Linked DNA regions of Homo sapiens. The protein of the gene in region 2 interacts with the protein of the main gene of each other region in a pairwise test. Each region holds a gene or a part of one and is shown on either strand. Other genes may lie near its edges.

Evidence for each region.
Region 1: the proteins of NCAM1 (region 2) and RHEB interact in a two-hybrid assay, tested with the Homo sapiens proteins (one large-scale study listed by BioGRID and IntAct).

What each region holds. Positions count from the first base shown.
Region 1 is NC_000007.14:151,467,650-151,471,469, forward strand, and holds part of RHEB (GTP-binding protein Rheb), read right to left. Parts: intron 3,793-3,820; coding exon 3,745-3,792; intron 3,004-3,744; coding exon 2,922-3,003; intron 1-2,921. UniProt on the Homo sapiens protein: Small GTPase that acts as an allosteric activator of the canonical mTORC1 complex, an evolutionarily conserved central nutrient sensor that stimulates anabolic reactions and macromolecule biosynthesis to promote cellular biomass generation and growth.
Region 2 is NC_000011.10:113,205,655-113,209,474, forward strand, and holds part of NCAM1 (neural cell adhesion molecule 1 isoform 2 precursor), read left to right. Parts: coding exon 1-12; intron 13-388; coding exon 389-526; intron 527-1,606; coding exon 1,607-1,724; intron 1,725-2,178; coding exon 2,179-2,348; intron 2,349-3,820.

The DNA.
Region 1 (3,820 bases), on a different chromosome or scaffold from region 2:
GAAGGCACCCTCCGTGCTCCTGAGATGCCACGATGCCAGCCTCCAACACCTCTGTGGCGTAATTCTCGGTCATTTCAATCCACAAACTGCCCTCCCTATCTCCTGGCCTCTCCTCTCCTGCCCGTCTTCCTGCCCTCAGCCTCAGCCCAGGGTCAACCCCACCAGTCCTTCACCACAGACAGGAATCATGGCCACTTGGAGCAGGAACTCTTCCTACACTGAGTGGGGAGGAGAACTGTCAGACCCTGTCCTTTATTTTTCCTTTTTTGTTATACAGATTGGAGGTTTCTATGTTGCCCAGGCTGGCCTCGAAAGCCTAGCCTCGCCTCCTTATGCACCAGGACAACAGGCCTGAGCCACCGTGACTCCCAGACCCTGTCCTTGAAATGCAGTCCTGTGGTCATGAAAAACTGCCCCTGTTCTCAGAAGCCCCACAGGAAGTACCCTGTTCTCCTAATCACCAAGAATCCCCCTCCCCCATCACTCCAGTGACTTCCACTATCCCACGAAACCAGAACACACCAACTGCCAGCGTCCCACCACACCACCTTCCCAGCTCTTTCTCTAGCTATCCTGAAGCAACAATTCTCAGCCCCACAAGGGGCCTGATTTGTTGACCCTATTATTACATCTCCCCTGTCCCTTAACCACTTCTTGCTGCTCCTTTCCCTCTCGGTCAGCTCAGACTCAGCAGGCCACCATGGCGCCACTGTACTTCAACTCCCTTCCCTACCAACTGTCGCTGGCACGGTGCCCGCGGCCACACCGTAAACGCTGCCCAGGGAAAACACACACCGCTCACTGCTGACCTCACACCCATGACCAGGAACCTGGCGCAGACACTTGGTGCTGCCTAGCCACCCGCCTGCATCCCTGGATCTGGGCACTCCCCAGAGAAAGCATCCACGCCTTGTCCCTTCTCCTCAAATGTTCCCCGTGCTTACGCTCAGCTGAAAACCTTGTTTTACACACTTCACTGGAAAACAGAAGCCACATTCATGAAAGAACTCCACATCCTCCATCCACCAAGCTGACCCACCCACTTGAATGTGGGCTCCCATCCTCAGCCTTCTGTCCTGTTGGTATGAATGAGGCGTCTGTCCTCCTAGTTAACTGAAGCCAACCCCAGGTCCCACCCCGCTTGTCTAATCTAGGTCACCGGCTTCAGATCACCTGATTGACAGGAAGCAGTGTGTAGAGAAAAAAGGACTAGATGTGGATGAGATCTACAATTCAGTCCTAGTTCTTATACCACGTAAGGTAGTGGGTGATCTTAGAAAAGTCATTTAACTTCTCTGAAACTTAATTTCCTCACTTCTAAAATGAGGCGGTTTAACTACATGATCTGAAGGATACAGTCCATAGGCACTCAATGGATTTAATTCAATTTTTAAAATATAGGTATCTCTTAACTATCTCAATTCTTATTTGAATTCTGTGTATACTCAGAAACTGAGCTGACTTCGATAAATCCCTTGCTATCTGGAACTTGGGAACGAATTACACACATCTGTTTAATCAGTTTTTTTCATCCGCACATAAGAGGACATAACCACATGGATTCACTATCCCTCCATATCCCAACACAGGACAAAGCCAATTTGACTATCACAGGATACTTGGGCTGACGGATAACCCACTGTGCTAAACATTATGAAGGATATTTATATAAATGATACTGACTCAGATCTCAGAACAAATTAAGAGGGCTAAGAGAAGAAACCACAATTTCTTTCAGCTGGATGGATCCAGAGGGGGTCAACAAGAAGGTGAAATCTAGGTGGGGCCTTGAGGACTACAAACCTCCGTGCTGCGGAGAGGGGCGGGGCAGGGAAGGAAGAGTGCCAAGGCTGCTGGCGCCCGGCCCTCCCAGGGAGGAGGCACCACCCTACTATACTAGAGTTTCCTCAGAGAAATGAAAACCAAGTCATCTTACCTGAGGATCAAACACCACCACATGTTGAAAACACATTCAAAATATAAAACCCCACATGAACCTAAGTAGATACTTAGAGAAGGGCTATTTTAAACCGGAGGGGAGCATGAGGAAAGGTGAGACATTTTGAAAGTGGGGTGGACAGGAGATGGTGTGTTTAAGGAAGGGAGCAGTTTGATGTGATGGAAAGTACAAGAACGTGGTGAGAGAAGAAACTAGAAAAGAACAAATTATTGACTGCATTCAGGACCAGGCGAAGGGTTCTATAGAGAAGGGGCAGTTCACTGACAGTTTCTGAGTAGAGGATGATACCATCAGATGTGTATCTTTAGAAAATTAAGGGCAGCAAAAAAAATGTATAGGTGAAAAATGCACTGGGGGCGGGAGACAAGCTTGGTGCCGGGGGTCTAAATTAGAGCAATGGAAGAGAAGGGCTCATACAGGACTGTGAAGCCTCCGGAGGCAGAATCTACATCCTTCCCAGAACATGCCTTTGAAGGCACATCTGCGGGGTGAAATTGGTACTAAATGCTTATAAGATGGTTCTTCATCATTTCTATGTTAACAATTAACACGTACGTCTGACCCGGTTTCATCTAACAGAAAAAAAGCCAGGGGGTGGGTAGTTACAAAATTAGTACTAAAGTGATATAATTCTTTTTTTTTCCCCTGTATGGACTTATTTCTGTACCAGCTATTAATACAAACCAAAAATATATGTTTACAAAAGGTAGTATTTCCTTTACTAATAGTTTCTGTTTATCCTACAAATATCCTAGGTTCCACTGTAAGTAGAATACTGACTGAATTTATAAACACCTAAGTAGTATCTTCCTAAAGCAACACAAAACTTGGTATTAGAAATGGAGGAAGGCCAGATGTTACACAGGAGTGATCAAGACAGAGGTCAAATGCCAACTGCAAGGAACACATCCCTGCGACTGATGAGAACGCAATGCAAAATGAGGTTTATAGAATCTGTTACCTGATTTTCTTTAGCAGAAGATTCCAAAAAAGCTGCATTCCAAGATTCTGCCAAAGCTTTCCCTTCTTCATAACTGATCACCCTAAAGAAAAAATAAAATTCTAGTTAAAGTACTTTGCTCTTCATTATATAAAACATGTATAATTGATTTATGAAACAGGCTCCATTTTGGTCAATTTCTTTCTCATGAAGCAGAACCATGCCCTGGCCTAACATTAGCATCAAGAATGTAACACAGGAGTGTTTTAATTACGCCTGAGCTGGGGAACAGAATAGACATTGCTTTATGGGATTATCCATGCTCCAGCAAACCTTCCAGCTCAGAGAACATGATCTTATTTTCCAGTACTCCCGTATCTGTAACAATTGACTATTTTACAGCTAGGTTGTAAGCACCCAAGGCCAGGGGAAATTGTGAAAGAGCCTGAAAGCTCAATTCTCTTGCATGCAGGCTGTAGAGTCTCTTCCTCTCTGACATGAAGCTGCCTGGGCAGGGGACATCTGCCTCCTTTGCTCCTCACTGTAATCCCAAACCCTGGTACTCAAAAACCACTTGCTGCATAAATGAGCACTATGTCTTTTTAGAATTTGCTTTATGCAAAGTGGCAGATAACCTAAAGGTAGTTTCCTATAAAGTTTGCTCTCTCTTTTCTAGAGGAATGTGAGATTTCTATTCCACTTTTGCTTCTGCTGCACACGACCATAACACCTCTGAACGGATAAAAATGCTACAGCTAAAAATATTCTTGACATCAGAACAATAATTAAAATGATACTTCAGTGACTAAATCATCTTAGATTTGACTTTATAAAAGCTACATACCTTTCCATATGCAGGTCTTTCTTATTCCCAACCAACATAATAGGTATTCTATTTGTAAGAAAAAAAAGACAAACCA
Region 2 (3,820 bases):
TGAAAAAAGATGGTGAGACCTGAATTTCCTGGCATCTGCCTTTTCCCCAGGCCACCAAGTTCCCTAGCTTTTTCACCTGTACTGAGGCATTCCAGTCCAAACTCCAATTCATGTGTGCCCGAACCCTCATGTGGTTTCTGGGTCCTGAATAGATGCATATCTGAAGTTGGTATACTTAGGTACCTGATTTTCTCTCCAGTACGAAAGACAAATTTCTAATAGACATTTACTCTTGGCTGTATTTCAAAGCCAGGGACGCATTTTCTTATTTGGGCTTAAAACCCCACCCTATGATACTGAAGTTAGGAAAAAGGAAAGAGACTCAGCCACCTGCCTGCAGATGCTCTCTGACTGATTCTTGGATGAACCTGCCTCTTATCTCTTCTAGTCCGATTCATAGTCCTGTCCAACAACTACCTGCAGATCCGGGGCATCAAGAAAACAGATGAGGGCACTTATCGCTGTGAGGGCAGAATCCTGGCACGGGGGGAGATCAACTTCAAGGACATTCAGGTCATTGTGAATGGTGAGGAGAGTCCGTTCTTCCTGATCTCTGCATTGCTACAACCTTGGTTCTCCAAAATCATTCTCTTTAACTTCCTCTTGGGTCTGTAAATTAAATCCTGTCCTGACTCAATCATCCGTCTGAGCTAAATCCCCTCCCCACCGTAACATCTAGATTTCTTTTTTTTTTTTTTTTTAATATACTTGCCTGTTGGATCTTCCTTCAACTACGAGGGATTTTAGTGCAGCAACTGAATGTCCTTCACCGTTCTGCAGCACTAAAAACTTTCCCCCTGCTTACCTATTAATCCTCATTGTCCTTGATGTTACCATAATTGTGAAGTTATTCCGCTGCTTAAATGTTCAAAGAAAGTATTAAGTCAACTCAGGCCTCAGAATAGTCAGAATCATGGTCCATAGGCTTGTTAATCTTAACTTGCAGTGTCAAATAAACACACCCATGGAATTGATCTGACATTTACAAGATGTTTACAGGAAATTATAATGTCAGTACTAAGAAAATAAGTAAATCAGGGTTGAATTGTTTTGACTATTGACACATATTTTTTTTGCCAAACTCTCCCCATCTCATTCCTTTGGTAAAAAACAGTTTTGTACAAGGTTGTTTATCACAGTCCCAGAGAAATGGCACTCTTTGTTATAGCTGATGCATTCGAATTGGTGTTAACCATTTAACCACTGGGAGCAGTAATGTCCAACTTTTTCCAGTACAAAGAGCTCCTTTTTAACATCAAGTTTCACTGAACCTGGTAGTTATTAAGTTTAGTATGCATTGACTGAGAAAATACATAATGAAGAATAGTGACTATAAATTGAATACCATCTTAACATGCATAAAATGTATTACTATAGCTTCTCAATTAATGAAAAACAAAAATGCATGTTTGTAGAACTGTCTATTCAGTTTGCAGAAGTTATTTAGTACATACATGAATTTCAATTCCTGACACTAACTCTGTAGCTGCACACGACGTTTGTCCCACAGGCTGAGAACTCCTGACCTGGAGTGGTGTCTCTTCTCCAGGCCATTGGGTTCTTCCAAATTTTCACAACCACCCCATGACACCCTTTTTTCCTTCAGTGCCACCTACCATCCAGGCCAGGCAGAATATTGTGAATGCCACCGCCAACCTCGGCCAGTCCGTCACCCTGGTGTGCGATGCCGAAGGCTTCCCAGAGCCCACCATGAGCTGGACAAAGTAAGAAACTGGCTCATACCTTTTATCATGGACTAGAGGAGAATGGGGCATCACAAAGTCTGCTCCATGTTAGTGTCTGCGTGGAATGGATGTGGGCTTCTTAGGAATATTAACCCCAGGAGAAGAATGGACTCTTTTCTATAAGATTCTCTTGCTTGTGCATTGATTATTCCTTCAATTTCAGCCTTGTGGGGGCAGAGTCAGAGCCAGAGGGTGTGGTCTTGGGAGCCCACTTTGAAACATTTGTGGGTACAGTTGCAGCCCTTGGATAGTCAGAGGATGGAATAGAGGAATAAGAGGTGTATGTGGACGTTCAACTTGGTGCCTTAACTTTTTGTGAAGACTGAGGAGTCTTTCCCATTGACTCAGTCTGCATTCTATGGAACCTAATTAAAAATAAACGTCTTATTTCTGTGGTCGAAATCATGCTACTTTGCATTTCTACATGCTCTAGGGATGGGGAACAGATAGAGCAAGAGGAAGACGATGAGAAGTACATCTTCAGCGACGATAGTTCCCAGCTGACCATCAAAAAGGTGGATAAGAACGACGAGGCTGAGTACATCTGCATTGCTGAGAACAAGGCTGGCGAGCAGGATGCGACCATCCACCTCAAAGTCTTTGGTAGGGGCAGTGGGGGCCCAGGTCACTGCTCTGCCACAATTCCCCTTCCTCTGCACATTCAGTCCATCAGTAAGACCCTGGCCACTGTCCCTCAGAACATAACCCAATGCAACCATTTCTTGCCAGTTCCACCACCTAGTCCAAGCCCTAGTCCAAGCCACCATCATCCTCACCTGAGCAGTGGGACGGTCTCATAGCTGGCCTCCCCGACTCTCCCTATTGGTCCACTTCATTCACTTCTGCTCACAGTAGTCAGAATGACCTAAGTACCACTCATCTGTTTGAAAGCCTCCAGTGGCTCCCTATGGCAACCAGAATAAAATTCAGACTCCCTGCAATGGCCTACAAGACCAGAGATGAACTAGCTCCTGCCTTCTTCTCCAGCCTCATCTTTCTTTCGCTTTGCTGCACATGCAAAGTTCTCCAACCACACAGGCCTTCTTCATGTCCCTCAGACATACCAAGCTTGTTCTTCATCTCAGGATCACTGCCCTAGGTTTCTCTTCTGCTTGGAATATCTTTCCCTCTGATCCACTCTGAGCTGCCTTCTTCTGATCCACCATTCAGATCTTAACTCAAACTCACCTTCTCAGCGGCGCCTTCCTTCACTGCCCTGGCTAATTCAACTCCCTCTGCACTGCGACCACCCCCACCCACCTCCACTCATCTCTCTCTCGTGACTCTTACTGTATCTTCTTTGCTGTACTTAACAGTACCTGAACAGATGTCATTTGCATATTTGTTTTGGGGATTGTCTGTCTCCTACCTCTACTAGTGTGTAAACTTCAAGATAGCATAACCCTGGCTGTCATACACGGCGTTATCCCTGTGACTCCAAACAGTGCCAGACTTGGCATAGGCCCTTGGTAACTTTAGTGGTCGATGGGCTGGCTGCTTTGCCTTGTTTGCCTCCTTCCCTGACCTGTGCAAAACAGTGTCATGGAAGAGCCCCCACATCCCTGCTCACTTCATCTTCATAAACTCAGGAAACTTCCATTCATTTCAGAACTGAAAAGCATTTTGACCTGATCTTGAAAAAAGAATTGGTTGCAGAGAAACGTTTAACCTAATGGCCCTCAAGTCTCTCCGCGTGTCTGTTTAGAAAACACAGATAAACTGGTCTACTGTAGACAGCACTGGGGAAGTGCCAGTCTGAGGCGCAGCTCTGGTGCATGGAGCCCCCAGGTCATTAAAATGTGCACCTGGGAATCAGGGTTGGGACCTGCTTATCCAGCCTGATAAGGAGAACTGTTCATAAACACAGACCTTTGAAAATCAAGACTTTATATGCAAATGTCCTGCTAGTTATTCAGTAGTAAACAGCTGGGTTTAGAAACAGGCTATCAGTTAGGTTCAAGTTAACCGTACGTATTTGAGAGAGAAAGCTAAACTTCATGAAAAATATTCTTGAAAGTCTTTTCTTGAATTCAGACTGATCTTCCCCAATCACTATGGTTTTAGTAAGTTTTTCC